Linked DNA regions of Homo sapiens. The main gene of each other region encodes a partner of the protein of the gene in region 2 in a complex. Each region holds a gene or a part of one and is shown on either strand. Other genes may lie near its edges. The genes, in order: FGF23, FGFR1, PLCG2 and FGF2. A codon is read from its position in the direction of its gene.

Region 1 (8,453 bases), on a different chromosome or scaffold from region 2:
GGAGCCAGGATGCTCTTGGGAAAGTCGTCCCCGACACCCCCCAGACCTGCCCATAGGACTGTTTTGAGCCTCAGAAGAGACAATAGATATGAGTGTACTTTATGGGCTGTGAAGTGCTAGACAAATACAAAGAATATTCTGCCTAGTAGATTGCAAATTCCCTGAAGATCAGGACTGTACCTTTTCATTCTCAGACTTCTCTAAAGATTTTCTACAAGGTAGTAGCCATATAACAGGCTTTCCATAAAAAGTTATGTGTTGATTGCTTGGATGCATTAAAGCAAGAGAGAATCAGATTGGCTATAGGGAAGCACATTTTTGCTGTCAAGATGACACTGGGATGACATTTTCAGATGAGATACAGGAATGGCACCTCTCCAGAGAACTTCAAGAAGCCAAAAAAAAAAAATTTTTGTTCTAGATGGCTTAGATATCCATCTCCCTGAACGCTGGAGGTCTGGACGACATGTAATGCTCTGAGAAAGCAAGAGGGCAGGGACACCGTTACTGAAATGGTGGAGACAGACTCAGGAGGAGTGAAGGGACAGGGAGCAGAGGCCTGCCAGGTCCTTCCAGGATCTCAAAAAGAAAAGAAGGCTGCAAGCCACCGTGAGATCACCTTCTCTCCTATCTCCCAGCTTTTTTTTTTACCTTGATTCCTCTGACATTTTTTCATCATAGCTAAGGACAATGAAGTTGATGTTATTGTTTGAAAATTATTGCCCAGTCTTTACTTTGAGTGAACATGATCTGGGTGAGAATCTTCTTCAGTACCTTCTCAGAGCAGATGCTGATAAAAAGAAGTCAGGAGATGAAGGAAAGTAATGAACTTGCAGGAATACTTTTTTTTTTTTTTTTGACAGGGTCTTATTCTGTCACCCAGGATGGAGTGCAGTGGTGCAATCTCAGCTCACTGCAACCTCTGCCTCCCAGGTTCGAGCAATTCTCCTGCCTCAGCCTCTCGAGCAGCACGCTCGAGAGGCACGCACTCATGCTCGGCTAATTTTTGTATTTTTGTAGAGACAGGGTTTCACCATGTTGCCCAGGCTGATCTCAAATTCCTGACCTCAGGTGATCTGCCCGCCTCAGCCTCCCAAAGTGCTGGGATTACAGGCATGAGCCACTGCGCCCAGCCGGAATACAGATTCTTATAGGCCCTTATCTATACTAAGAGCCTTGATTCTATGAGCGTAAATGCAGGGACTAGACTTGATGCTTCCACACAGCTCCCGGGGCAAATTCTCTTAATGCCAGAGAAGTGGGTTCCAAACCAGGCTGGAGACAACAGGTTTCCCTGCCTGCCATGGGACCAGCCTATCTGCTGCATTCAGGTAGCTACCTGGGAACCAAGGACAGTGACGTCCAAACAGCACAAACCCAGGGCCTCCTCCCTGGGCTTCCTGTTCACAGCTGGTATCTATCTGTGTTTCTCTTTGGGCTCCTAAGGTCACACTGGTTCCCAGACCCTTGGACCTGAACTGTGACGGAGGAGTGCCCTCTAGGTGCAAAGGACAGGAACCGACATGTCCTGGCCTCTCCCTTCTCTTACCCACTGAAGCTTCAGAGGAGACCATGCACTGGACTCAAGGACAGGGTACTTGTCAGCACGAGGTACTGATTTAGCATTCAGTACTAAATTCCCTAGAAAGGCCCATTTACATCTTGACCTGCAGTTAGGATGGACATCCTAGAAGGGAACGGAAAGTTGAGCCTGCCACTGAAGAGGGCCTTAGTCTCTGTGTACTATTTCCAGTGCTTGATGTGTGGTTGGCGCTCAAAGCCTGTTTATTGATAAGTACTTTAGTATCAGCCACATCTGGTGTGGAGAATTAGAATCTCCCAGGTGGCTTTGAATAAAGTACAAATAACTGACTTTTGCCCCTGCAGATTCAGTAGGTCTAAGATTAGTCCTGGGGCAATTATGGCTTTAAAGCTCCACAGGTAATTCCAGTGAGCAGCCAGATTTGGAAGCCACTGGTAGGGAGTTCAGCCTGGAGCTGGACATTCTGCTGTCTCCGTGTTCCAATGGGCAAATCTTCATCTCCGCTCTCAGTGTTTCCCTATCTCAAATGGGGAGAATTAATCTGAGATTCTTGCGCCTTCCTTTACTCTCTCTAAGTGGGAAATGCTGCTTCTCCTCCCATCCTCCTTAAAAATAAGTCTACTCCTCTGGGCTGGACTCTGCCATTAGAGCCAGATGCTAAGCACACAGGGCTTCTTCTTGGAGGGGAGGCTTTGGACCTGGGTAAGCTGGCACAGGGCTCTCTTTCCTAATAAGACAAGCTGAGGTGGCCACGGAGGAGCCCCTTCCCCAGTCGCTCCAGGAGCTAGGGGAATGACCGAATGGCTGTGGACTTATCCCAAGACACCTGTGCTCCCTCTCCATCATGCTTGGCAGGTGCTGGGGAAAACCCTTCTCTGTGTATCCTACAAAGCTCCCTCAGTTCTCTCCTTCCCTCAAAGCCCTCCTTGACCACAGCATCTACCCACCATGACCTTTTTTTTTTTTTTTTTTGGTGACAGATCCTCGCCCTGTCATCCAGGCTGGAGTGCAGTGGTGCAATCTCAACTCACTGCAATCTCCACCTCCCAGTTCAAGTGATTCTCCTGCCTCAGCCTCCCAGGTAGCTGAGATTACACAATACGCCCAGCTAATTTTTTTGTATTTTTAATAGAGACAGGGTTTCTACTAAACGGGGTTTAGACAGGGTTTCACCGTGTTGGCCAGGCTGGTCTCGAACTCCTGACCTCAAGTGATCTGCCCACCTCGGCCCCCCAAAGTGCTGGGATTACAGGCATGAACCACCACGCCTGGTCAACATTTCTTTTTTGTGAAGGAGCTTGGTAAAAAAGTGCAGGCAGCAAAGCACTCCTCCATGATTCTCTCGGAAACCCAGGTCTTTACCCGGGGTGAATCTCTAGGGTACATAGTGCTTGTCTCCCCAGGGTTGTTTGGAAGATGTATGACATTAAATGTTTATGTATAAAGCAGGCTTCTTTAGTAATGGCCACAGAATGGTTTATAAATATAGTACCACATCTTCACTAATTTGCTCCTAGTAATGAAGCTCCTCCCACACAGTGCCTTGTATTGAACGAAGATGTTCCCTGCTCAGTTACACTGGGAGCCCCTAGAGGAGTTAGTCCTGCTTTGTAGTCCTACACCCTCCCTTTCATCTCTTACATGGAGAAGGTTCTCAATGGCTGCTGATTGCCTTATAATTACTTCCCATCTCTTTACCTTTCACAACCAGAATAAGAAATGCAGGGCAAATGTTCCTAAGTGATTTGCATCTCAATTCTGAAAGCTAGCTATTTCTTCAATTAGCTAAGACGTAGCATTATATTTATAATCCATTCTGTGGCTATTAGTAAAGAAGACTGTTTTACATATAAACATTTCATGTCATACTTCTTCCACTCAACCCTGGGGAGACAAGCACCATGTGTCCTAGAGATTCATCCTGGGTAAAAGCCTGGGTTTTTAGAGAATAACAGAGGACTGCTTTGCCACCTGCACTTTTTTACCAAGCTCCTGGCTCTCATGGCTTTAGCTCTAACATGTTGTATGGGTTTGGACACCTTGAAAAGTGCTTAGGAGGTCTTGGGGCCAGACCTGGATTCAAATCCAACCTCTTCCACATGTTACCTTTCTATCTCTAGGCAAGTTACTTAAACTGTGTGCATAGATCAGTTTCCTGATCTATATAAAGAAAATAACAGCATCTCCTCAAAGAGTTATTCTGAAGATGAAATGGGTTACTACAAGTAAAGCACTTAGAGCAGTAAGTGGAACAGTAAGCTCTCCATGAGCGTTAGTTCTTGCTGTGATTCTTTGGAGAAGCAGCCTAGGGAAGGAGAAGACCTTGTCCTGGCTCTACCATTTATTTGCTTTGTGCCTTTGGACATGGAAACACTAAGATTTCCATTTCTTCATGTAAAGTATTAAAATCTTGATAATGCATGGAGTGCCTATCTCACAGAGTGGCAGTGAGGTTCAAATAAGCTAATAGATGTGAAAATGCTTTGTAAACTATAAAAAAAAACTGTACAAATGTAGGGTAACAAATGCCATCTCTTTCTGTCTATACCTGTAAGCTTGCACTCATTTTGTATTATAGTTACTTATTTTTATCTGCCTCCTGCATTAGATTTGAGCTCCTCAAGATAGGAATCACATCTTGCTGTCTCCTATATCAACCTGTACATGAGTCTAGCTTGATGCCTGTACATGGCATATACTCAGTACAGGGAAACTGGAAGAATAGCAAACTCCTTGTGTGTTTTTTCGGGTGTGTGTTCCAGTAGCTTGCTCCCCTTTAGACTGTATGTGCCAGGACTATTCCACCCGACATCAGGTGTAGCTTCCCAGAGGGCTCACTGTGAACAGCATCTGCAGGCAGGCATCCAACACCAAGCTGAGCACTCATGTACAGACACTAAATGTGGGGACACCCTGTCCTGAGGCTCGGATCCCCAGTGCTCAGCCAGCAGCTGTTCCAATCCCCATGAGGTCTCTGAATGAGTCTCCTTACTACTGGAGAGACTACTAGTTTAGTTGCCCTCGATAGTCCAAACTAGGGAAATTGAGAAATTGAACCTTGGCATATTCAGTGAAGTCCAGACTAAGGAAGCTGAGAAACTGAACCTTGGCATGTTCACTGACCTCAAGGCCTTACTTCTTTTTCTTCCATTTCAAAATCTTCCCAAAATGGCAACTTTGGCTTTTGTGCCCCTGCTCCTAGCTCCCATCTTTCATGAAGTGGGTGTTCTTAGAGGATGCCATCTGCCTGATGGTGTCATGTATCTCTATATCCTGCAAGCTACCCACCAAATCCTGCTCACAGATTAAGCACTGGATACATACTTGCTGATTGGAATTTAAAGAAAACCAAAATAAGTAAACTCGACAGGAGATTAATTGCCTAGGAGTCGGTTGACTGCTTGACTGAAGCTGGATTTTTTTTGGGAACCGCTGGCTGCCTTCACATTTCCTGATGGAAGTGGGACAGGTCAACAGACAGCCCAGAGTGGCAGATAACTTTTGCCCACACGTCATTCATTTTTTGGAGCGTTGGCTTGAAATTGAGGGGTGTGTGTGTCTGGAACCGACGTGCCTTCCGTGCGCCTCCGGGGTCTTTGCACTTTCTTTCAATGGGCTGATTACAACACAGAGGATGTGGACAGTGGAGTTTTTCCTGTTTGATGTCACACTGCTACCCTTTAAAAGTCTGACGGCAAAAAGGAGGGAATCCAGTCTAGGATCCTCACACCAGCTACTTGCAAGGGAGAAGGAAAAGGCCAGTAAGGCCTGGGCCAGGAGAGTCCCGACAGGAGTGTCAGGTTTCAATCTCAGCACCAGCCACTCAGAGCAGGGCACGATGTTGGGGGCCCGCCTCAGGCTCTGGGTCTGTGCCTTGTGCAGCGTCTGCAGCATGAGCGTCCTCAGAGCCTATCCCAATGCCTCCCCACTGCTCGGCTCCAGCTGGGGTGGCCTGATCCACCTGTACACAGCCACAGCCAGGAACAGCTACCACCTGCAGATCCACAAGAATGGCCATGTGGATGGCGCACCCCATCAGACCATCTACAGTGAGTAGGGCTTCAGGCTGGGAAGAAGGGGAGCACCCTTGTTGTCCATCTACAGGAGGCTTGGGGAGGTTGGGGACTAGACTGGAGGGCTAATCCAACCCTCCTAGCTTTCTGCCCAGGAACCACTTATTGTCTTTGTGTGTGTGTGTGTTTGTGTGTGTGTGTGTGTGCGTGTGTATTTAAAACTTAGGGGAAGATTCTGTCACTCTCCTAATTAGCATTTGCTGGTTTTTCTCAATATGAATAATTTTTATTTCAACTAAAACCCTTCCCACAGTAGGAGCCATGTTCCCTTTGCCCCGTCAAAAGATTGAAAAAATGTACAGAAAGAAAGGCAAGGAGTCTAAGAGAAAAAGAAGCCAGGCAGATCAACAGACACTAAGTTTCAGCTCATGGACTTTGGACTGGGTTAACTAGGGAGGTTGTAAAGATTCCTGGGTCATACCCAGATTGTTATAGATAAATCTGGGGGCTCTTTCCAACTCTGGCCTTATAAAAATTCTTGGAAAAATGTATTAAAGACAGACTGTCCATGTATGTTGTCTTGGTGAGAATGGCCAAGTATACAACCCATCCACCCATTCATTTGTCCATGCATCCATCCATCCATCCATCCATCCATCCATCCATCCATCCATCCATCCATCCAACAGGTTTAATGGGTGTTTCAGACACCCAGGTACCCAGGTACCCAGTATGAGTTGGTGATTCTTCTCTGTGGAACTGAAAGGTGTCCAGTCAGTAGCAAGTCAAGCTAGTTAGAAACTTATTGGCAACATGAGACAACTGGAATGTTTTTAAAGATCAGGTTTGTGGAGAATTGGATCACAATCCACAATAATCAATCCATTAGCAATGATTCAAATGAGGGTCCCTTTGTGTGCACCTATATAAGGGGTAATGTGGTGAAAGCAGGGATAGATATTGAAAAAGACTGGATCTTCTATTTTAAGAAAACGTGAGAAAACACCTCAAAGCATACAGAAAAATGCAAACTGATCCAATATAGCTCAAATTAAAGGAAAGAAAAATTAGTTAGACAATCTCTAACTAAAGAAAACATAGGAATTATGATTTGCCCTTTATTGTTGTAATAAATAAATTAATTATTTTTGCTGTGACCTTGCTGTGTGTGAGGCATTTATTCTTCTAGGCTCCAAAGGTCCTTAAACCTGGTTGCAAGATATACAACATGCAAAATTAAGTTGCAAGATATATAACATGCGAAATTGACAGTTTAACCTCTTCAAGTACTAAATGCATATTGACAGGAGATAAAAGGAGAGAGGAAAGTTCTCTCCGAATACCAAACAGGTTCCAGAACTCCAGAGAATATAGTAAGACTCAGGAGTCAACATCTTGGAAACCAAGTTTGAGTCTCATGGCAAAAATTTCAATTAAATCTGGATACACTTGATGCACCCGAAGTGTTGTTCATTTTATTCAATGGATATTTAATAGGATCTACCATGTGCCTGGCATTCTACCAAGCGCTGTGGCTGAAAACTAAGACACAACCCTTCAAGGACCTCATGGTCTGTCGTCCTACCTTGTCAGCCAGCTCACTACCAGACTTTCAGGAAATGCAATTTTGCATGTCTCATGGAGGGGACACCCTTACTCTAATTCAAGACTATATGTGGGCCAGGTGTGGTGGCTCACGCCTGTAATCCCAGCACTCTGGGAGGCCGAGGCAGGCAGATCACGAGGTCAGGAGATTGAGACCATCCTGGCTAACACAGTGAAACCCCATCTCTACTAAAAATACAAAAAATTAGCCAGGCGTGGTGGCAGGCGCCTGTAGTCCCAGCTACTTGGGAGGCTGAGGCAGGAGAATGGCGTGAACCCGGGAGGCAGAGCTTGCAGTGAGCCGAGATTGCGCCACTGCACTCCAGCCTGGGTGACAGAGCGAGACTCCATCTCAAAAAAAAAAAAAAAAAAAAAAAAAAGACTATATGTGATTTAAAATGCAGAATAGTAGATTATGGTAAATTATTTTGATTCTCTTAGATGGAAAGGGCTGCATCCAACTAGAGAATGTTTATACAACTTGTCTCGAATCCTGGAATCCCGTTGCTGAAAGGAACTCCTTAAAGACGTTTCTTCCTGAACAAGAATTAGGGTAGAACAGAACAGGCCGGCTACGGTGGGGAGTGAGTGTGAAGAGTCAACCTCCTGGGCTGGCAGTCTGAACTTAGACCTTTTCCTTGAAAGCCCACCTCGTATCAGGCCCCAAGGGATCACTGAGTGCTAGTTAGAGTGAATTAAAATGACTGAGAAGCAGCAAAATAAATTGAACTGACTTCAGATTTTTAAAAATAGAAATGTGATTTTGTTTCCTTAGACATAGGCACTAGCTAAACATTGCATCTTTAAAGAGTTAAACATGAATGCGGGGAGGGGAACTTCGGGTCAGGGTAGTGGGAGGGAGATCTACTTTTCCTAGTCTATGTAGATAACTTTTTGTACTGTTCAATGAGTTGTCATGTGTATTATGGGAAAAAAAAAGTGCAGGAAAAAATTACACACTACAATTAAAAGTTACCCAAAAGAGGCCAGATGCGGTGGCTCACGCGTATAATCTCAGCACTTTGGGAGGCCGAGGTGGGAGGATCACTTGAAGTCAGGGGTTCGAGACCAGTCTGGCCAACATGGGGAAACCCTGTCTCTACTAAAAATACAAAAATTAGTGGGGTGTGGTGCCTGCCTGTAGTCACAGCTACTTGGGAGGCTGAGGCAGAAGAATCGCTTGTACCCCAGAGGTGGAGCTTGCAGTGAGCTGAGATCGCACCACTGTGCTCCAGCCTGGGTGACAGAGTGAGACTCCGTCTCAAAAAAAAAACGTTACCCAAAAGAAAGAG
Region 2 (7,522 bases):
ACTGTCTAACACCCTCCATGGCCAGAGGCCAAGGAAAAGAAGCACCCTAAGATTGTTCAAGTGGTGCCCACTCTGGCCTGAATTCCCATTGGGAAAAATACCTCGAAAATGAGCATTTCTGCAGGCATGTTTGGAAAAGCAGGCAGTGAAGTACGCAGTCCAAGTGGCTCTCAATCTGGATGAACCTCATTAAAAAGCTGACACTCAGCTATGACTAAGAGTAAATGCAACAGATATTTCAAGCAGCTCGTCACTGATGCAGTTCATAACCCTCCCAGCTGGAGTCAGGCCCCAGCAGCCTCCCGGTCCCCAAACACCCTGCACTCGGAGGGTCGGGGCAGCCCCGGAGCTTCTCCTAACCCACTGGGGGTAGGATATGTAAACAAGTCATTAGGGAGGCAGGCCATCGGCAAAGACGGCCGGCAATAGCAGAGGCTGCTGAACCTCGGTCACCGAGAGGAAGGTGGATGACCCGGGCGTGGGGGTGATTACCCAGACCAAGGCGCGTCCCACGGGGCCCTGCTACTTCGCTTTTAAACAAGCCTCAGGGAGGAAACCGGGAGCCCGGGCCAAGGGAGGAAAATGGCCACTTTCTGCTAAACAGTCTCAAGGCTAGATAGTATTCCAAAAAAAGCGCTGGTCCGGAGGTGCAAAGGGTAGGGCACATCTGCGGAGGAAACAGTCACCTTAATTACCACGTCTAGAGAAAGTGCGATTTCATTACAGCCTCCAAAACTACCGCCCAAAGAAGGAAACCAGAGAAGTGTTTTCAATTTGAAAGAGGCTGGAAAGAAGCGGGTAAGACACCGACTCTCCCCACCCTCCCGGCAACTTTGGACCACAAGGCGCTTTCCTGCCTCAAAGACTATTACCAAACACAACTCGAAAATCCAACCCCGCTTTCAAACCTGTAGCCGTTATTTAAACGGTAAAACACCCCACTTTAGTTTCCGGGGGATGCGGCCCAAATCAGTCCTTAAAAACACACAGAGAGCGCCTCTGGCAGCAGCCGCCCACGCCCCCGGCCCTGCGCACCGGGCTTGCTCCGGGAGGGGCGCGTGACGCCACCGCGGGGCAGCCGAGAGGGGACCGCGGGCTCCGGGCAGGGCAGGCGCTCCCGCAGCTCCAGCTATAACACAAGGGAGAGAAAGCAACGCTTTGGTTCCAGAAACTTCCATCGTCAAGGCCAGTTCTGGCCAGACGCACAGCCAAAGAGCCCCCCTAGTCTAGCGGATGAACCGTTCGCGAGTGGCACCCCCTAAAACCTTGGCCCCATCTCCCAAGATGCCTCTTTACTGCGCAATCCAGAAAGCACCCGGACCGCCGCCACCCACCAGCGGCGGCGAATAACTTGGTGAGATCTTAAATAACTCGGGATCCAAGGGAACTTTCTTTTCTCCCCCGAATCTCAACGCCGCATCTCCAAGTCTCCAGAAATGTTAAGGAGGGAGGTGGTCAAGACAGGCTGAAGAATCTGAGTTTTAATTTGGGGGAGGGGGAGGGGAGGAAGAGGGAAGTTAATAATGCGGCTGCGGTGTACCCGTGTGGGGTGAAACGGAACCAGATGCGGCTGCTACATCTGGAAATTGGGGGTGGGGGAGTGCTGGGGGAGAAAGGCACCGTGGTAATGTTTTTCAAAAGGGTTGATAGCTTCTGGGCTCAGAACAAGAAACAGGCTTCACACCCCACCCCCCCCCCACCACCACCAAAAAAGTGTCTGGCTGCCTCATAGGGGGTGTGTGTTCTATATGAACCCCCATCTACAAGGTCCATAAAATTCCTCCGCAAACATGGGTCGTAGCCTCACTTTTCTCCCAACCCCAAACATAACGGTAGGGGAAGCGAGGTGCAGAGGGGTCTGGGCCAGAGAAGCATACGCATCGCTGCCGAGTGAACCACACCGGACAAAAACCCTCATCCCTTCCCCCACCTCTAGGAACCAGATTGGGACCGAACGGTCCTTCCGCCCCCATCCCACACCTCGGCTTAACGACCGTGGGTTGTCCTCCCGTTCCCCAAACTTCCGACCCTTTCAGAGACCGTCCAAGTCATAAGATCACCCCTTCTGGAAAGGGGAGTCGTTTTTCGCTCTCAGCTCAAGCAGATTCAGCCATTTGGTGACGACACCTCCTTAAAACCTATTCCAAGAGAAGCTAACCTAGCCCTCCACGTCCTCCGCAGTTCATCTCCCACCCCATCCGACCCCAACCCGCACCCCAGGCTTTCCCGGGGGTGGAAAAGGACTTAGGAATGCCCCGGATTTTTAGCGTTGAGCCCAAAGCTACCTGCTGAATTGGGGGTGAATCCCCAAAAGGGGACCAAAAAGACATGGAGTGGAATGCAACACACACACATAACACACACAACGCATCCCACCTCGCCGCCCACTCCCGCCCTCCTCCCCAGTCCAGGAAACCGCGGGCCTCGCCGCCTTCGCCCCGGGCCTGTCCCTCCCGGGACTCACTGAGGAGCCGCCGCCGCCTCGCCAGCTCCCGAGCGCGAGTTGGAGGAAAAGTTGGGCGGCGGGAAGAGCGGCGGGACGAGCGCAGGGAGGGGGCGCAGGAGACGCGGACGGAGGGAAGGGAGGGGAGACCCAAGGGGCGCGGATCGCCCGGGAGGGAGCCAGGAGGTGAAAGGGGCGGGCGGCGAGCGGAGGGAGGCGCCGGCCCCGGCTGGGCTGCGGCGGGCAAAGCGCGCAGCCGGGAGGCTCCGGCGCCGGGGGCCGCTCGGGACGCCAAGCCCGCCCCAGATCCGGGGGCGCCGCGGCTCTTACCTCGCTCGGCGTGGAGGTTCCGCCTCGGGAGAGTCCGCCGTGGCTTGTGCGAGCGGGCGTGTGCCCGCGTCCCCGGCTCCGGCCCGCCGCCCCCGGGCTCTGTTCGGGTCCTGGCGGGGTCGCAAGAGCTCCGCGGCCGGCGCTCGACTCCCGGCGGCGCTCGGTGCTCGGCGCCTCCAGCCCGGGCGGGAACAATGGAGCCGGAGCTGGTGCCCCGGAGGCGGGGCGGGGGGAGGGCTCCCGTCCGCCACCCGGGGTCTCCAGACCTTGTGCCCCCCTCCTCCAGAACGCAGCGGCGGCGCCTCACTTTCCTTGCAGACCGGGCTCCATCGCCCTGCGGAGGCCCCGGCGCCGCGGCGTGCCCGACTGCAGCACGGGTACCGTGCGCCCTGCGGGGCGCCCCGAGCTCGGACCGGAGAAAAGTCCTTGGGTTCCGCGGCTTTTCAAGCAGCGGCGCGCTCGCGGCCGGGGAAGGCGAGGTCGCCGCAATGCGCTACGAGGGGTCTCGGTCCCGTCCGGACGTGGCCGCCCAGCTCCCGGCACACCCGGGTTCCTCCGCGCGCTGCGGCTGCACCGGCGTCCCGGCTCCCGCTAGCTGCCGCCCGCCGCCGAGGACGCCGCGCCTGTGGCCGCAAGAGCGCTCCGAGCGCTATGCGCCGGCGGGGCGCGAGGGCTCGCTCTCTCACTCCCACCCGCGCTGGTCCCTCCTCCGCCTCCGCCCCCTGCAGCTGCCTGCTGGGCCTTGTAGTTCCCCAGCCGCGGCCCCAAAGGACGGGGAGCGGGCCGAGCTGTCCGGCGCTCTGCCCTTCTCTTCCTACAGCCTGGTCTCCTTTGGCGTTTGCGCCCCTGCATCTGAGCACGTCCCAGAGGGCGCCGGAATGTCAGGCCCTAGACATAGCAGCGGTTTGGGGGCTAGGGGGCAGGTGAAGAGACGCCGCAGCCTTGAGGTTGTACCTGGTAGCGTGGGCTTTGGAGTCTGTGCGCCTTGGGGAAATGATTTTCGCGCTCTAAATCTCTGTTTTCCCATCTGTAAATGGGGGATAATAGTGCTTTTCACATAGAGTTGAGGCGTCAACGAGGGCCTAGCGCATAGTTAACACTTAGTAAATACAAGCCGGTTTTATTATAAGGTCAGCCCCTCCTCAAACCCTTCCCTTGGATTTCAGCTTTCCCCAGCCACATAATTTAGGTTTTGTGGTCCACCGGGAACTGGACCCTGTAAATTCTACAGCGATGCTGTTGGCTTCCAGAAGTCTCCAGCCTGCAGTGAATGTCTAGGAAGCAAAGAGTAAGCAGTGGGAGTTGAGGGGAGACGTGTGGTTGGTTTGGAAATTAATCACAGCCCACTCAGAACACCCTCCAGTACTGTGGAACACAGGAAAGTGGCTAAAATGCTTCCCCCTGAGTCTTCCCGCGAAGTGGTATAATGTAGTGGTTCCCTAATCCAGATGGACACGGGTCCTAGGGAACGTCTGAAAAATACAAGTTCATGGGCCTGCTCAGACATGAGGAATCACGCTGTCCCAGGAAGGAGCCAAGAGCCTTTATTTTTTCCAAGGCTCCTTGGGGCGTGTGATGTGAGCCCAGGCTGAGGCCACCATTGGGGTGGGAAGTAGGCAGCACTTGGTCTGAAGGATTCCTCCATTCTGTCCATCATTTATGAAGTTTGATGTAGGACAAATCATGCATCTGATAAAATCAAAACGGGGTATCTGTTGATACTCCTTCACAAGATGGTCATAAGAATCAAATAAAATAATAGCTCTCAGTGGACCAAAAATATTACACAAATGGAAGTCACTATGAAAGGTAGTGGCAGGGCCTGTTCCCTTACCATCACCCACCTCAACCCCGAAACTTGTAGAAGTTTGAATACTGAATGAGATCCCCCCACCCAACTCCTCACCCAACCCACCCACGCCTCCCTGGCTAATTTAAGAAAAGAGTTGGCCGGGTGCGGTGGCTTATGCCTGTAATCCCAGCACTTTGGGAGGCCGAGGCGGGTGGATCACGAGGTCGGGAGATCGAGACTATCCTTGCCAACAAGGTGAAACCCCGTCTCTACTAAAATACAAAAAAATTAGCCAGGCATGGTGGCGCTTGCCTGTAATCCCAGCTACTGGGGAGGCTGCGGCAGAGGAATCGCTTGAACCCGGGAGGCGGAGGTTGCAGTGAGCCGAGATTGTGCCACTGCACTCCAGCCTGGCAACAGAGCAAGACTCCGTCTCAAAAAAAAAAAGAAAAGAAAAGAAAAAATGGTCCTCGCGCTATTTTTCTAATCCACCAGTAGGTGACAGACTAGTGGCCAACACAGTGTTATTCACATAGTAGACACTCATGAAATCCCTTGACTGGCCAAAGAGCAAATATTCAATAAGTATTTGTTGAACAAATGAGTAAATAAACAACTAAATTACAGCTCACGCCTGTAATCCCAGCACTTTGGGTGGCCGAAGCGGGAGGATCACTTGAAGCCAGAAGTTCAAGACCAGCCTGGGAAACAAAGTGAGCCCTTGTCTCTACAAAATATTTTTAAAAATTAGCTGGAGGTGGAGGCTGAAGAAGGAGGATGGCTTGAGCCCAGGAGTTTGAGGCTGCAGTGAGCTATGATCCAGCCACTACACTCCAGCCTGGGCGACAGAGTAAGACCCTGTCTCAAAACAAAATAATACAAAACAAAAAATGAGAAACAAGAACTCATATCTTTGTTGAATAAATGAACTTCAGCCACTGTTTATAGGGTTTTCCCCTAAGAGCCACCATTTAACCTTTCAGCTCCTGGTCAAGCTTGGTTTATACTCCTATGTAAGCTGCCCACCCATTAGGCCTCCTGCATTTTAATTACTACACATCACACGCTTGTAAGAAGGCCATACTCACACCCTACCCCCAAGAGGCCTTCCCTGCCCATCCCAGCTTTGTCAGTCCCTGGACCCCCTGCTCACTTGCTGACTATCCACTGAGTTGATACCGTGCTTTGTTAGTGGTTTTCCTTACTCTGCTTTCTTTCTAACTGGTTTCTAAACTGCTTTAGGGCAAGGATCTTATCTAGGTGTCTGACCAATTCTACACAGGAGGTTTTCCATGTATATTTATTGTTCATGGACTTGCTAAGCATAACCAACCTGGGTTACCAGAGGAGGAAACACAATTTGAGGGAATATGATTGGGAAGACAAGCCATGAAAAAAATCCAGCATTTAATGTTAACACCCAGCTACTATTTTTCTACTTTGCTCCGTAATTCTTCTCAAAAAAGGGTTTTTTTTGTTTTCTTTTTTTTTTTTTTTCCTGAGATGGAGTCTTGCTCTTTTTGCCCAGGCTGGAGTGCAATGGCACGATCTCAGCTCACTCAGCTCACCTCTGCCTTCTGGGCTCAAGCGATTCTCCTGCCTCAGCCTCCCGAGTAGCTGGGATTACAGACACCTGCCACCATGCCCAGCTAATTTTTGTATTTTTAGTAGAGACAGGGTTTCACCATGTTGGCCAGGCTGGTCTCGAACTCCTGACCTCAGGTAATCTGCCCACCTTGGCCTCCCAAAGTGCTGGGATTACAGGCGTGAGCCACCATTCCTGGCCCAAAACAAGGGGTTTTAAATCAAGCCCCTTTTTCTTATGATTTAGAACCATTGTAGGAGTATCTTGAACCCCAAATAAAAGGCTAAATAATGCGTTCTTGATTTAAACAGAAAGATAATGATCTAAATGCTTGTTTGGGGTTGAGGGACATGGGCCTGCTGCTGAAAAATCCTCTATAGATTTATCAAGAAGCCAAAATGAAAGCAAGTGGCCAACTTGCCAGGGTCCCTCCTCCACTTCTCAGGGAAAGAGCTGATGGCAGCTGAACAGAGAAGGTGAGAAACTCAGCAAAGGCATGGGCTGTCCACACACTGCAGACAGGTTTCTGAATAATTGAGAGTTGGCTGCTTTTATCCTTCCAGCCCACCTCGCTCCTTTTCTGTCCCACTCCTCTACTCGCCCTCTTTCTGAAATGTAGCCCTCCCATTTCTGGAAGGGCCCCAGGCCAGTGGAGGGAGAGTGTCCCTAGGGCAGCCCTGAGCTGCTCCAGGCAACAGGGGTCAGACAGCAGCTCTGCCTGTCTCTGTTCTGCCCGAGGCCTCCTGGCACCTTGCCTCCCATACAGAAATGTAACCTTCCCTCTGAGATAACAAAGAGCTGGGAGGGTCAGGGAGGATTTGTCGGCCCTTCGCCCTGCCAGCTACATGTCTAAGGGGAGACAAAGGCCCTCATGCTGGAGGGCCTGATAACTGGTTGGGGGCCTGTTGCCTCCCACATCTGTGGGAGGAGGAGACCACTGCTGAATGAAACGAAGGGAAACGGAGCTCTCCCCAAAGCCCGGCCAGCTCTCTTTGTTTGGGAACACTGTAGGAAATCCCTTCCCTGTTCCTCCAGCTACTTGTGTCCTCAGAGTTTTCCCTGGCAGACGGGAGCTCCTCTTCCCCTCTCCCCACATTCCTTCTGCCCCTGCTCTATCTGGGTTCTGTTATTTTAGGGCTCAGCTGTGCCTACCAGGAATGATCACCCCACTACCCTGGGTCGATACTGCAGAATTAACAATTCTTTGTTATGGAACAAGTCAGGTAAAGTAAGCACCATTGACATGGGGCAAGGTTGCAGAACTTCCAGCCCAGGCTTCAAGAGTCCCCAGGATGTGGTGAGAGCTGGCAGAGTCTCCACTCCGAGAGCTGGTTGCAGAAGGGGATTCGGGAGGAGGGAACTGTCTGGGGTT
Region 3 (6,582 bases), on a different chromosome or scaffold from region 2:
CCAGCTACTTGGGAGGCTGAGGCAGGAGAATCATTTCAACCTGGGAGGCAGAGGTTGCAGTGAGCCGAGATCACACCATTGCACTCCAGCCTGGGCACCAGAGGGAGACTCTGTCAAACAAACAAACAAACAAACAAACAAAAAATCCTTTGGCACCCTTGACTCTAGTTCTCTTTGTTCTAGAAATTAACCTACAGTAATACCTTAGGCGCTTGCCACTTCCCCTAAGTAGAACTGTTTCCTCTAGAAGGACACTTCAATTTAATAGCGAAAATAAATGATGACCACTGACTTTTAAGGAGTACTTATTGTGTTTCCAAGAATGGGCTAGTCCAGCGGCTCTAGACTGGGTCAAGATCCCCCAACAGGGATGCTTGTGGTTGTGCTACAGGCATGTAATGGGGTGCGGGGCGGCCGGGGTTGCCAAGTGTTTCATAATATGTCTAAATCTTCTAAGAAAGAATCATCCAGACAAAAATCCTAATAGTAGCCACCAACGAGAAACTGTGCTGCCTCCCTTACTCACATTATTCTCATTGAATCTTCATGTCAGCCTGCAGAGTAGCTCTTACTCTGTTTTACCATTGAGGAGATTTAACCTCTCTGAGTCTCAACGTCTTACCAGGAACTTGGAGTCTGCCTCTCTGACACTCAGCCCTATACCATCCAGCTATGAATGACTGGCAAATGTACAGAAAGAGAAATGTTACAGAGTTCAGCACGCAGCCCATTTCTCATGGCCCACTGCTGATGGTGAAATCTGTTTTATTTCAGGTTAAGAGAGAAGAGAGTCAGCAACAGCAAGTTTTACTCATAGAAGCTGGGGTATGTGTGTAAGGGTATTGTGTGTGTGCGCATGTGTGTTTGCATGTAGGAGAACGTGCCCTATTCACACTCTGGGAAGACGCTAATCTGTGACATCTTTTCTTCAAGCCTGCCATCAAGGACATTTCTTAAGACCCAACTGGCATGAGTTGGGGTAATTTCCTATTATTTTCATCTTGGACAACTTTCTTAACTTATATTCTTTATAGAGGATTCCCCAAAATGTGCTCCTCATTTTTGGCCTCTCATGTTCCAAACCTCATTGAATAAAAGCAATGAAAACCTTGATCAATTAAGCCTTCTGTTGCACGACCTGTGCAGTGAACAGGATTTCTTTTCTGGCCAAGAAGATTCTACCTCTAATGATCCAGGTAACTGATGTCCATGGAGGATGAGCTGGAAATGTAAGAAACTATTCATGAGATTCTGAAAAGGATTTTAACTCAAAGGCAAATGATTCCATAAGGGCCCAAAGAGAAGCCCTACCCACAGGCAGCCTGCTCAGTTCAATGTACTTTAACTACCACCGGCTGCCTGCTGCAGTCCACAAGAAAATGGCTGAGTGATGGGATCTGTTCATTAAGACAATTTCTAATTAATGGTGACAGCTTGTTTTGTGACTAGAGTTACTGGGATGGAGGGTAGGAATCTTGGGGCCTCTTTGTTTTAAAAAGCCCATCAGAGAGACCAGAGCCGTGCTGCAGGGGCAGGTTCTCACTTGCCCCTGGCTCTGCCAGCTGCTGGGAGGCTCTGGCCCCACTAGTCCCTCATGGCCCTACTGAACTGGCTGGGAGGCTGCTGGAATGGCCCTTGGTCCACAGCTCTCCACAGGCAAGAGGTCAACTGCTGCTTGAAAGAGGTAGACAAAAGTTAGGTTGATGGCGAAATGTCTCTGGGTTACCCAGTCTTCTGGAGCAGCAAGCTGAGCTTTAATGGGCTAAGCATTAGGGTGTTACAGAAAATTTCAAATGCAGCCATCTCCCTTGGGGCAGATCTACCTAGTTCATGACAGTATGTGCGGCTGGCCAGGGCTTTACACCTCTGCATCTTAAGTTGTTAATACATACCAATAATGTAATATGGCTTTTTAAAGGAGAGGAGAGTGCTGGGTTGGGAAGGGAGGTGGTTGGTAGAGTCACAACTTCTCAATGAGTGAATTTACAGCTGATGGGAAAAGGAGTGTAACTGTGAAAAACGATGGCTGTGGTGGGGAAGAACAAACCAGCAGTAAGCCTGATGTTTGATGTGGATGGAACTGGCCCCTAGAAACCCATCTGACCCTCCTCTTGTTACCCGAAATGCTGGGCTTAGTATGCATGTACTGCTGAAAAGCAGGGCAGAACAAATCAGGCTCTGACCAGAAGATCCTTCTGGTCCCTTCACTCTACAAAAACTTACTGATCACCTCCACATGCCAAATACAGTGCCAAGATTTGGGGGTGTGGATGTTTAAACAAAAAGCTGTGGGTCTCATCAATCATCTCCATCCACAAGCTCCTAAAAGAAAGCCATTTACCTCGCTTGAAGCCAGGAACACAGGGAACAGCAGTCTGGCCAAGGAAGGGCTGTTATCTGGTGCTATCACTCCAGTTACTCCTCCAACTGGGAGCTGCTATTTTATTTGGCAGTCAGCAACTGAAGAAAGAACATTCCTCTTAGTGGCAGATGTTCAAAGCAACTTTCAAGAAAGGCTAGGTGAGAAAGGCACTGGGATGAGTGCTGCAGGCACTCTGTAGCCAGGGCCCCATTAGCCTTTGGCCAGGTAGCCACCAGAACCTATTTATTGCACCTGGCATCTCCCCCAACCCCTCTCAGCTCTGTTAGGACTTCCACACAGCAGAGCTCAGGTGTTGCTGTCATTACCTCCTTTCAGCTCCTCACTTCATTCTACTTTAAAGCCACAGTGCTAAGGCCTGCATCCCCTTTCTGCCCAAATGGGTTTTTTGCTACCATATCAAAGAACCTGACATATGGCGGCATAGGAAGCAGAAGCTAAGCCTCTCTCCAGCTGCTGCTGTGTAAAATCCATGCGTGGCCAAAGAGAAGTCAGGGGATTATGACATAAATGGTGCTGGGAAGAACCCTCTGCCTAAAACTGTCTCCTTCTCCTGGTGCTACAACCGGAATCCACCATGAGAGAGTACTTTCTTCGGTTCTTTCCTCCTGTCCTTGACAGAGTAACACGTTAATCTGGTTCTTGGTGGTGTTAGGGACTGATTCTCTCAGGAAAGGCACACATGGTATGATGGCTCTTCCCAGAGTCTATGTGATGCTACATAACTTCAGTATCTAGCTGAGACATGCTTCCTACATGACTGTTAAAGCACAGCCAATCCAGGCCAAGAAGACTAGTAACAGGCACATTCTGAAAGATGGAAGCAGCACTGATAGATCAAAACCACCACTGCATATGTATTACACTGTTTTTGTTCACCATTTTCCTAAGTGTGTTATTTAGAATATTGGTTATTACAAGGAAAAATAAAGTGGGGAGGCTGGTTAGGCCTTGTGAGTTTGGGAAACTTAGGTTATAAAAACTAAATAAAGTTTTTCTACTGTGAGACTAGATGTGCAGGAGTGAAAGGTGTAGAGGGTCTTGTTTTCCAAATTCGATCTCAGAATCTTTTTGCCAGAAGTGTCTCATGGGACTTATCTATAGTGGAACACATTTGAAGACCTACTGCTCTATTAAGAAGGCAGCCGGACAACATGTTCTAATACTTCGTATGCTTTGTGACCTAGTTAAAATCTAAACTTAAGTCGCCATGGCCAGTGGCCTTTAGATTAAGCTAGCCTTACCCCTGGGAGTATACCAGAGCTTTCCAAGGAATACACAGACTCCAGTACTCTCAGGGGAGCAGTGTTCAGAGCCTCATCTTCCTGTTATATTCTTCTCTAAGATTCATCTGCCTGAGAAAATGCCCTTTTCTCACCTTACAAAAGAAAATATGGCTGTCTCCACCTCTAGTCTTACTGTAGAGCATGTCCCAAGGTGTAAAAATTCAAAATGTGGATATTTGGAAAGTGAAAGACTTATCAACAGGGCACAAATCTTTTTGCAAATGGATTTTCCAAGTTTTTCTGGTGGTTCCAAATTTTTTGCTTTCAACAAAGTGGGAGGAACAGCCTGTAGATTTCTGAGTCTCTTAGCATGTAACTACAAAGGGGTTGGAAGAATTCAGTGATTCTGCTATCATAAAGCTTCCGTTCCCATTGATGTATCTGTGTGAACAAGGATCAACATCTCCATAAATGAAATTGAAAACGGAAAATAGAATTGATGATGAACTTTGGCTCAATCTTAAGATGTTATCAATCTACATAGATGAAATAATTGTGGAGAAAAGCCCTCTTTATCTCATTAAGTGATACATTTCCAAAGAAGTTTTACTATGTTTAATAATTTAGTGAAATTTGGGCTATGTGTTTATTGATTCAGCTCAATCCAGAGGAAAATTTTAAAGGCTTACAGCCTTAGGATTATAGGATACTATATAATACTTTTGGTACAGAGATAGAATTAAATAACATAAAAATCAAAAATTTATTAGGCTAAAATTTTGAGGGAGAAGTGGTATGAAAATACAAATTCAAGGAGTAAAAGGAAAAGTGGGGCATTCCTTGCTACTAAAAATTGCCTTGTTCCAGGTAAGACTGATCATAAAAAAATGGCCCTGTTCATAAAATTTTTAAAAAGATCATAGTATCTATCAAATAACTTATATTAAGAACCTCCTGGGCTAAATTTAAAAAGTAATACAACAGTTTTATTTAAACATGTAGTGTCTACGGTATGCCAGCACTTTGCAGCTATTTATAATGAGAAATTTTAGATGTCAATATAGCAATGTGCAAGAAGATAGAGATTTTCAAAATTCACTTAAGAGTATCTGAGCATAAAATGTTAAGATTGCTGATCGGATGTGAGGGCGATCTGGCTGCGACATCTGTCACCCCATTGATCGCCAGGGTTGATTCGGCTGATCTGGCTGGCTAGGTGGGTGTCCCCTTCCTACCTCACCGCTCCATGTGCGTCCCTCCCGAAGCTGCGCGCTCCGTCGAAGAGGACGACCAACCCCGATAGAGGAGGACCGGTCTTCGGTCAAGGGTATACGAGTAGCTGCGCTCCCCTGCTGGAACCTCCAAACAAGCTCTCAAGATTGCTGATCTAGGGCCACTAAGTGATGAATTGTATTTGGAAGCAAAAAGGATGGCTAAAAAGGACCTCAACCCTTTTGACTTTAAAAGGAAAATAGCTTAACCTTCAACCTGTGTGACATTTAACTTTTTGAACCCAACCGTAAAAGCTATCTTCTAACCAACAAAAAGTTAATAATTAGATTTGGAATTATACAGAATTAGAAAATTGGCATTTAAAAATACTCAATAATTTGTCCCTGGTTTTTAATTTTCAAAATATTTTCTTTTTGAAGAGCCAGATTCCAGTGATCCTGCCTCTCAGAAATTTCCACATTTCTTATTTTTCATTAGGCCTTAAGAAGCTGCATTTGTAAACTTGTGTTTCATTATTAAAGCTTAATTTATTTTTTATATAAATAGTATGTGCTTTGTGTACATAGAGAATTAAGTGAATGAGTCACACAGATGTTGGCTGTTGTTAATGTGAAAATTAAACAGCTGTATCACATTTTGAAAAATAAAAGTTTCATCTGAATGAATATAGCAATCTGCCCAGAACTTTTTTTAAAAACTGCTATTCACCTTTTATATTCCCAAATAAAACACACACACACATACAATAATTTAGTCATGAGATAGGTAGAGTTACAGTTATTTTTTGAAATGTGTTTTACTATCCTATTTATCCCACGTTTCTTTGGGTTACAGGTTTATCTTCAGCAAAAACTCACTCTGTGTTGAAACTCAAGTTTGTACGATTAATACTTGAGTGCTCTTCAATTTATCAGTTTTGAAAGAATGTTTAGTGTTGGAAGGAGCGAGGACCTTATAGTAAGTCCCTGTATTTCTCAGCTGAGTGATAGGCTCCCTAGAACTGTCAATCACTGCGTTTCTTGCCAACAATCCCTGGTCCACAGGAAGCCATGTTGTATCTCATACCTCTGACCCCCAACCCCCAGCCCCCAGTGGTTGGATTAGTTACCCTGGTCCAAAGATTTAATAATAGCCTATGACAAACCTCTGCATTAGAAGATGAGCAAGGAATAGTAAAAAGCAAAGATGAAATTAGAACTGCCAAATGACCACTTTTTAAATGGATACAACCATAACTCTCATAAAGATATATAATGAACATATGTCAGAAATCTTATTAATTAACAAAGGAACCAGTGAGATGTTCCAGCTTGTTTAAAGGAGAATGCAGAGAACAATATATATACATACAGTATAGGTTATCCGCTATCCAGATTATCTGATTTTATACGGTTTCTCCACGTTTTATTGTCCGAATAATGCAAATTATTCCTGTCCGTAGAAATGCAAACTGTGTCCTGTGGAGATTCCATTGATCATTCCCTTGTGGATACTGATCACTGGTTTTACCAGTTTTATATCTATTAAATTTATTTCAGCATCGCTGATGGATGTGAAATCTGACTCCTATCTTACTCCACACACAAAAATCAAGTCAGTTAGATTATAGATCAAAATATGAAAGATAAAACAATATTTCTAGAAGGTCTTCACAACATCGGCGTAGGGAAAGGTTACTTAAACAAAACTACAAAAGCAGCATCCCTGAAGGAAGACTGCTAAATTTGACTCCCCTAAAATTCA
Region 4 (7,743 bases), on a different chromosome or scaffold from region 2:
CCCACTTAGTGCCATTAGGTCCTTGGGATACAGCAATGTACAGGTCAGAAAGATCTCTGCTCTAAGTTTTCTTGTATTATATTAGGGGAAGGAAACTGATAATAAATACAAAAACAAACAAGATACAATTTTAGATGATAAGTTTATGTGATAGTGAGTAATTAGTTGTTTGCATAAAAAATTCTACCTTCCAAAATATCACTACAAATACTTTAGTGTTTCTCATTCTATTATGTGTATGAAAGCATATTAAATAAATGAGATACTATTATACAGTTTTGTAACCTACTTCTTTCAATTAACAATATACAATATTGCAAGAATTTTTTTCATGTTATTATATATTCTCCCACAAAACTGTTTATTTGGCTACATGGAACGTACTACTTCGAATGAATATAATGTAATTTATTCACATTAATCACCTAGATTATCCCTTATTTTTCCTCATTATGATCAAGGATATAATGAACATCCAGGTTAATAAATCTTGTGTACATCTATAATCGTTTCTTGAGAATAAATTTCTTACATCAAAACTGTTGCCTCAAATGGTTATTTAAATTTCAAAAATTGGGCCAGTCATGGTGACACATGCCTGTAATCCCAGCACTTTGGCATGCTGAGACTGGCAGATCGCATGACCCCAGGAGTTTGAGACCAACCTGGGCAACATGGTGAAACCTGTCTCTATAAAATATACAAAAGATTAGCCAGGCATGGTGGCATGCGCCTGTAGTCCCAGCAAACCTGGGAGGCTGAGGTAGGAGGACCACCTGAGCCCAGGAGGTCGAGGTTACAGTGACCCACGATTCTGCCAATGCACACCAGCTTGGGTTGACAGAGCGAGACCCTGTCTCAAAAAAGAAAAAAAATCAAAAATTAAAACTGTGATGTACCTTTTAAAATAGTTTTCCCAAAATGCTGTATAATTTAGCCTCCCTCTGACTGTCGATAAGGTCTTTGGTTCACCTCATCCTTAATAGCACTGGATGATATCTTTTTCCTCCCGACTTTATGGGAGAAAAAAACTCATTTTCATTTTGACATCTATTATTTTTCTTTCTCTTTTTTTGAAGATACAATTCATGTATCATGAAATTCACCATTTTAAAGTGTTCAATTCAATGGTTTTCAGTATATTCACAAAGTTGTGTAATAACCATCACCACTATCTAATTCCGGAACTCTTTTATAGGTCCCAAAGGAAATCCCATACTCATTAGCAGTCACTGCCCATTTCCCTCTCCTTCAGCCCTGGCAACCACTAAGCTGCTTTCTGTTTCTATGGATTTGCCTACCCTAGGCATCTCATATAAATGGAATCATATAACACCTGGCCTTTTCTGTCTTTTTCCACTGAGCATAATGTTTCCAAGCTTCATCCATGTTGTAGCACGTATCAGTAATTCATTTCTGTTTATTGCCAAATAACATTTCATTGTATGGATATACCACAATTGATTTATCCATTCATCATTTGATGGACATCTGGCTTGTTTCCACATTTTGGTTATTATGAATAAAGCTGCTATGAACATTTATGTACATGTTTTCATGTGAATATATGTTTCCAATTCTCTTGGCTACATACCTAGGAGTGGAATTGCTGGGTTGTCTGGTGACTCTGTTTAATTTTAGAGTTAACTGTCAGACTGTTTTTATATTGACTACATCATTTTACCTTTCCACCAGCAATGTTTGAGGGTTCCACTTTTACCACATCTTCAACACTTATTATTTTTTGTTGTTGTTATTTCTTAATTATAGCTATCCTAGTGGGTGTAAAGTAGTATCTCATTGTTGTTTTGATTTGTATTTCTCTAATGTCTAATGATGTTGAGCCCCTTGTCATGTGTTTATTGGCTATTTGTATATTTTCTTTGGAGAAGTGTCTGTTCAAATCTTTTCCCATTTGAAAATTAGATTATTTGTTTGAATTGTAGGGAATACAAGTTATTTTACTGCGTGTAGCTGCTCCCCAGGTTTCTGGATGCCATTGTTAAAAAATATCATGACTTAGATTTTATCCCCGTGCTCCTGGAATCCTCAGGTTTCTGTGACACAGAGTTCAAGTGAGAGTTCAATCATTCTAGGGACTACTCAGCACCACAGTAGCACCTACAGAGATCATCTGGAGGGAGTGATTTTGTCTCAACAGACGGATCTTCAATGAAGATGAAACAAATCCATTTTGGAGAGAGATGTTAGAGAACTGATGGCGTTCAGGACATGCTACCCAAAAATAATGGTACCTTGGCACTTAAGAAAAGAGCAGAAGCAAGAGGGTTACTTTCACTTTCCCCAGATCTTCTCTTCTGAGGCAGACCATAAGACCTTCATTCCAGAGGTGCCTTCCCTATACCTGGAGGAAACAGACATCCTTATCTCTGAAGACACACGGACAGGGAAAAGAATCTGAGCAAATAGGCCTTGCTAAGTAAGTCCCCCCAGTTTATTACCATTAGATCACAGATTTGTCCAATCATACTTCTCCATGACTTCCACTTCTTTATCAATCCTAGCCTTAAAAATACACAGGCTTCCCTCTTAACTTTGGGTCTTAATTTCTGAAGTCTCCTGTTTTGTGTAAAACTCACATAAATAAGTTAGTATGTTTTTCTCTTGTTAATGTGTCTTTTGTTACAGGGGCTTCAGCCATAAACCTAGTAATGAATGGGGAAATTTTTTTTTTCCTCCTCTATAGAACATATACCAACTGCAAGAAGAAAGAAGAATATGCCTGGTTTTGGGCCTGGCGCGGTGGCTCACGCCTGTAATCCCAGTACTATGGGAGGCTGAGGCGGGCAGATCACCTGAGGTTGGGAGTTCGAGACCAGCCTGACCAACATGGAGAAACCCCGTCTCTACTAAAAATACAAAAAATTAGCCCTGCGTGGTGGTGGCGCATGCCTGTAATCCCAGCTATTCGGTAGGCTGAAGTAGGAGAATCGCTTGAACCCAGGAGGTGGAGGTTGCGGTGAGCCGAGATCGTGCCATTGATCTCCAGCCTGGGCAACAAGAGCAAAACTCTGTCTAAAAAAAATAAATAAATAATAAAAATAAAAACAGTATGCCTGGTTTTAAAGCTTCAAAGAATTTACTCATTCTCCTGTATGTAACATTCTAGAAATGCATCTGGAGTTAAAGCCTTCTTGGAGACTTAAGAACAAATGCACTTATGCATGGCCTTTTGAAACCTAATGTTTCTACAAGGAGGCACGTCCATACTTGCAACTCCTTCTAGAAGCTTCCCCAAATCTCCTGCCTCCCCACGCTGAGTTATCCGATGTCTGAAATGTCACAGCACTTAGTCTTACTCTTCTATGGCCTACTTTCTACTGCTATTTGTGTTACTCATGCTACCCATCTTATCTCCCTCAGTGTGTGAGACGCTGGCATCAGATTTGGCATCTCCCACACACTCAACATTATGTGTTGCACACAGTAGGTACTCAATACATGCAAGTTTTCTGAATAGATATTTTCCTAGTCATCTGTGGCACCTGCTATATCCTACTGAAAATTACCAAAATGCAATTAACTTCAATTTTACATTTGGGATTTACAGAAAATAACTCTCTCTCCAAGAAATGCATAACAATTTAGCTAGGGCAAATGCCAGGTCCGAGTTAAGACATTAATGCGCTTCGATCGCGATAAGGATTTATCCTTATCCCCATCCTCATCTTTCTGCGTCGTCTAATTCAAGATAGGTCAGTAAAGGAAACCTTTTCGTTTTAGCAACCCAATCTGCTCCCCTTCTCTGGCCTCTTTCTCTCCTTTTGTTGGTAGACGACTTCAGCCTCTGTCCTTTAATTTTAAAGTTTATGCCCCACTTGTACCCCTCGTCTTTTGGTGATTTAGAGATTTTCAAAGCCTGCTCTGACACAGACTCTTCCTTGGATTGCAACTTCTCTACTTTGGGGTGGAAACGGCTTCTCCGTTTTGAAACGCTAGCGGGGAAAAAATGGGGGAGAAAGTTGAGTTTAAACTTTTAAAAGTTGAGTCACGGCTGGTTGCGCAGCAAAAGCCCCGCAGTGTGGAGAAAGCCTAAACGTGGTTTGGGTGGTGCGGGGGTTGGGCGGGGGTGACTTTTGGGGGATAAGGGGCGGTGGAGCCCAGGGAATGCCAAAGCCCTGCCGCGGCCTCCGACGCGCGCCCCCCGCCCCTCGCCTCTCCCCCGCCCCCGACTGAGGCCGGGCTCCCCGCCGGACTGATGTCGCGCGCTTGCGTGTTGTGGCCGAACCGCCGAACTCAGAGGCCGGCCCCAGAAAACCCGAGCGAGTAGGGGGCGGCGCGCAGGAGGGAGGAGAACTGGGGGCGCGGGAGGCTGGTGGGTGTGGGGGGTGGAGATGTAGAAGATGTGACGCCGCGGCCCGGCGGGTGCCAGATTAGCGGACGCGGTGCCCGCGGTTGCAACGGGATCCCGGGCGCTGCAGCTTGGGAGGCGGCTCTCCCCAGGCGGCGTCCGCGGAGACACCCATCCGTGAACCCCAGGTCCCGGGCCGCCGGCTCGCCGCGCACCAGGGGCCGGCGGACAGAAGAGCGGCCGAGCGGCTCGAGGCTGGGGGACCGCGGGCGCGGCCGCGCGCTGCCGGGCGGGAGGCTGGGGGGCCGGGGCCGGGGCCGTGCCCCGGAGCGGGTCGGAGGCCGGGGCCGGGGCCGGGGGACGGCGGCTCCCCGCGCGGCTCCAGCGGCTCGGGGATCCCGGCCGGGCCCCGCAGGGACCATGGCAGCCGGGAGCATCACCACGCTGCCCGCCTTGCCCGAGGATGGCGGCAGCGGCGCCTTCCCGCCCGGCCACTTCAAGGACCCCAAGCGGCTGTACTGCAAAAACGGGGGCTTCTTCCTGCGCATCCACCCCGACGGCCGAGTTGACGGGGTCCGGGAGAAGAGCGACCCTCACAGTGAGTGCCGACCCGCTCTCTCCGCCTCATTTCCATTTCGTGGGTTCTCGCCCGCTCTCTCCCCTCCAGCCTGCACCCTCCTCCCGGATCTTCACTGCGACCCTAGCGCTCCGTGTGGTTTCTGGCCGCGCGGCCCTCGGCGGTTTCGGGTTCACCACTCACCCCCTCCTTTCCGGGCTGCGGCGTAGGCCCGGGTGTCCCCTGGGCTTTGGGGTGTGCCAATTTGCCCTGTAAACCAGTACCCCCGGCCCGGAGCCGCGGCGCGCCGGGGCCTCGCGGACTGGCTGTCTTCCCGCGGACAACCTGTCGCGTCGGGGATGCCCGCGGCCCCGCCATGCAGCTCTGGCCGCTTCTATCTGCTGCGTGCTGTCCCGGGGACAAAGACAGGAAGGACCGCAGCAGAACGAAACGGTCTTTACTGGAAAAACACCTTTCTAGAGTCCTGCCCTTAAATTCCGACTCGGGACGACCCGAGGCATATGGCACACTACTCTCACCCACTCTGTTTTATATTTTTCCGAATTGACGAAAGCTGAAAGAGCAAAAACAAAAACCAACCAGCCAACCAGCAAAAAATCCAGATGTTGTTAATAAAGTGCCATAGCTTTGTTTCAGTAGTGAAAAGAAGTGCAAACACTTTAATCTTCCACCTGCAGTGACTAGCTTTGAGACCTTGAGCCGACGCTTAACCCCAGAGCCGGTTTCCTCATCGCTCACGTGGGGCTAATATATTACTACCTTGCAGCAGGCTTGAGGATGAAATGAGAATTGCAGTTTTGCTTTCTGTAAGAAACAATGTTTGTGGTTCTAGAAAGAACACTGGCCTAAATAAGGAGTGCTTGGACTTTAGGGGATTCCCTAAGTCTGGAGTGGGGGCTGAAGATTTGCATTTCTAACATGTTCCCCGGGGATGCTGATCACATCACACTTTGAGAGCCACTGGTCTAGAGGAAAGAGAAAGAAAGGGGCATAAGATGAGCCGATTTACAACACTGATGGAATTTGAAGTGAGAGAAAGAGGACTAGAATATATTGTAACCTGTCCTCCTGTAAGTGTATGTAAACATGTGTTTTAAAAGCTGTGTGTTATGGCGTTCCTTCCTTTATGGGTTCCAGGTGGAGAATCTGATTCTCTCATTGCCTGAGAAAAGACCCACAGGGGTCCCAGCGCCACTCCCCTGTAGTTCTGCCTTTGTCTTGGGATGCTAATGGGATGTCATGAGGGGAGGTGGAGGGGGGCTGGAAGAGAAGAAAATTCTACAACCAAACGTGAATTGGCAGAAGAATGGGCAATACACTTTCATATGAGCTGAGTCTTTATTGCTTCCAAAATAGCAACCTGCAAGAGAGGCAAGTATTTAATTTTTTTCAGGCTTGCCATAATTTAAAAATTTTATCAATCACTTAATCCCGTAAAACTGAAAAGATGCTTGTAACCTATTAGATGGGTTAGTGCTAGTTCTCTATTCTGGTAACTTGAACTCATCTATTTCAAAAAATTATCTTTGTGATTGAAGTTTGTTCTGCAGTTGTCTGCTACGCCATCTCAGCTGACAAGGGCAAGGTGCTGTGTGTCCCAATTGGTTTTGTTCTTTCTAGTATCACAAATTATTTATTAAAAAGCATGTATTATGACCAGAAGACAGAAGAATTTCCCTTTAAATTAAATTAATATTTGGGGCTTCCCCTAATACTCTTTTTTTTTCAGACTCTATTAGTTGCTGAATCATTTTTTCTTTGAAGATTTTGATACCCGATTCGCCTTAGAATAAAACTATGTAGAGGTTAGCCAGTGGACATAATTTTGAATTGCATACCACATTACCACCGTTGTAAAAACAACCGTTAACTTTTTCTTCCTAACTGTGAGTTGGGTTTTCATTTTTGTAATCTTACTTTAACTCTGTGGTTCTCAAATGGGGACGATTTTGCCTCCCAGGGGACATTTGACAATGCCTGGAGACATTTTTGGTTGCTGTAACCTGGAAGGGTGCTACTGGCATCTGGCAGGTAGAGGCCGGGGATGCTGCTGAACATCCTACAATACACATTATAATACCCTCAACAAAAACATTTTTGACCCCAAATGTCACTAGTACTCAGGTTGAGAACTCTGCTAACTTTATAACTAGCTAAGGACAAGACATTAAAAGGGAAATGTAGAATAACTCATCCAGACTTGTGGAGACTACCAATTTTTTTAAAATTTTTTATTTCTATAGGGTTTTAGGGACCAGGTGGTAGTTGGTTACATGAGTAAGTTCTTTAGTGGTGATTTGTGAAATTTTGTTGCACCCATCACCCAAGCAGTATACACTGAATCCAGTTTGTAGTCCTGTCCCTCCCCAACTTCCCACCCTTTCTTCCCAAGTCCCCAAAGAGACTACTCTTTTTTTAAAGGATACCTGTACCAGGCAATAGACTGACAAGAATACAAATCTAAAAATGACAAATTTCATCTATTTCTATGTAGCCCAACCTGGACATAAATTTAAGTACAGTATATTATTTTCTCACATATTGGATGTTTACTGATAGTTGACCAAACCATGAGGAGACCCCCCAAAACAAATAAAACTGACCAGAAAACATGGAGAAGAGTTAATAGTAGCCACAGTTTCCTACTACATTATGGCTCAGATTTCTAGACCTGTTTGAAAAGTTGAAAAATCTATGGTCTCATTCCTCAGACTGTTTTGTCCAACTGACCTGAACATCTGTCACTGGAATTTTTTTTCCTTTGGCATGACACTTTGTGCCTACATGTTTTCTAAACTGCAGGTAACTTTTGAAAGGCCAAGTTCAACCATTATCAGATTTTAACATTTAGTAT

What was found.
Region 1: the proteins of FGFR1 (region 2) and FGF23 are in contact, whole or in part, in a cryo-EM structure (PDB 7YSH), measured with the Homo sapiens proteins. Residues at the interface, in NP_075598.2 of Homo sapiens: Glu159, Lys160, Glu162, Lys163, Lys164, Leu165, His166, Ala167, Val168, Pro169, Lys172, Gln244, Asp246, Val248, Glu249, Arg250, Ser251, Pro252, Val279, Tyr280, Ser281, Asp282, Pro283, Gln284, Pro285, His286, Ile287, Ala314, Gly315, Val316; in NP_065689.1 of Homo sapiens: Leu31 (codon at 5,472), Leu32 (codon at 5,475), Gly33 (codon at 5,478), Ser34 (codon at 5,481), Trp36 (codon at 5,487), Gly37 (codon at 5,490), Tyr43 (codon at 5,508), Ala45 (codon at 5,514), Thr46 (codon at 5,517), Ala47 (codon at 5,520), Arg48 (codon at 5,523), Asn49 (codon at 5,526), Ser50 (codon at 5,529), His52 (codon at 5,535), His66 (codon at 5,577), Ile75, Arg76, Ser77, Glu78, Asp79, Ala80, Gly81, Val83, Val84, Tyr93, Phe108, His117, Gln118, Thr119, Asn122.
Region 3: the proteins of FGFR1 (region 2) and PLCG2 are in contact, whole or in part, in a cryo-EM structure (PDB 8JQI), measured with the Homo sapiens proteins. Residues at the interface, in NP_075598.2 of Homo sapiens: Lys504, Asn506, His541, Lys542, Lys598, Ser602, Tyr605, Gln606, Arg609, Glu612, Tyr613, Ser616, Lys617, Lys748, Asp755, Arg756, Val758, Ser762, Gln764, Glu765, Tyr766, Leu767, Asp768, Leu769; in NP_001412678.1 of Homo sapiens: Phe528, Arg540, Thr568, Phe569, Pro570, Asn571, Phe577, His585, Cys586, Arg587, Arg589, Ser590, Thr591, Met592, Gly595, Leu601, Thr602, Asn604, Leu622, Arg623, Cys624, Ala625, Glu626, Phe627, Glu738.
Region 4: the proteins of FGFR1 (region 2) and FGF2 are in contact, whole or in part, in a crystal structure (PDB 1CVS), measured with the Homo sapiens proteins. Residues at the interface, in NP_075598.2 of Homo sapiens: Glu162, Lys163, Leu165, His166, Ala167, Val168, Pro169, Ala170, Asp246, Val248, Arg250, Ser251, Pro252, Val279, Ser281, Asp282, Pro283, Gln284, Pro285, His286, Ile287, Ala314, Gly315, Val316, Thr319, Asp320, Glu324, Gly344, Asn345, Ser346; in NP_001997.5 of Homo sapiens: His158, Phe159, Lys160, Lys163, Tyr166, Gly170, Phe173, Arg186, Lys188, Leu197, Gln198, Ala199, Glu200, Glu201, Arg202, Gly203, Val205, Ser206, Tyr215, Val230, Glu238, Leu240, Asn243, Asn244, Tyr245, Asn246, Leu282, Pro283, Met284.

What each region holds. Positions count from the first base shown.
Region 1 is NC_000012.12:4,376,511-4,384,963, reverse strand, and holds the start of FGF23 (fibroblast growth factor 23 precursor), read left to right. Parts: upstream 1-5,251; 5' UTR 5,252-5,381; coding exon 5,382-5,592; intron 5,593-8,453. UniProt on the Homo sapiens protein: Regulator of phosphate homeostasis. Inhibits renal tubular phosphate transport by reducing SLC34A1 levels. Up-regulates EGR1 expression in the presence of KL. Acts directly on the parathyroid to decrease PTH secretion. Regulator of vitamin-D metabolism.
Region 2 is NC_000008.11:38,465,208-38,472,729, forward strand, and holds the start of FGFR1 (fibroblast growth factor receptor 1 isoform 1 precursor), read right to left. Parts: upstream 3,429-7,522; 5' UTR 2,774-3,428; intron 2,518-2,773; exon of another isoform or gene 2,465-2,517; intron 1-2,464. UniProt on the Homo sapiens protein: Tyrosine-protein kinase that acts as a cell-surface receptor for fibroblast growth factors and plays an essential role in the regulation of embryonic development, cell proliferation, differentiation and migration.
Region 3 is NC_000016.10:81,957,182-81,963,763, forward strand, and holds the end of PLCG2 (1-phosphatidylinositol 4,5-bisphosphate phosphodiesterase gamma-2), read left to right. Parts: intron 1-774; coding exon 775-817; 3' UTR 818-5,504; downstream 5,505-6,582. UniProt on the Homo sapiens protein: The production of the second messenger molecules diacylglycerol (DAG) and inositol 1,4,5-trisphosphate (IP3) is mediated by activated phosphatidylinositol-specific phospholipase C enzymes. It is a crucial enzyme in transmembrane signaling.
Region 4 is NC_000004.12:122,822,443-122,830,185, forward strand, and holds the start of FGF2 (fibroblast growth factor 2 isoform 18 kDa), read left to right. Parts: upstream 1-4,732; coding exon 4,733-4,910; intron 4,911-7,743. UniProt on the Homo sapiens protein: Acts as a ligand for FGFR1, FGFR2, FGFR3 and FGFR4. Also acts as an integrin ligand which is required for FGF2 signaling. Binds to integrin ITGAV:ITGB3.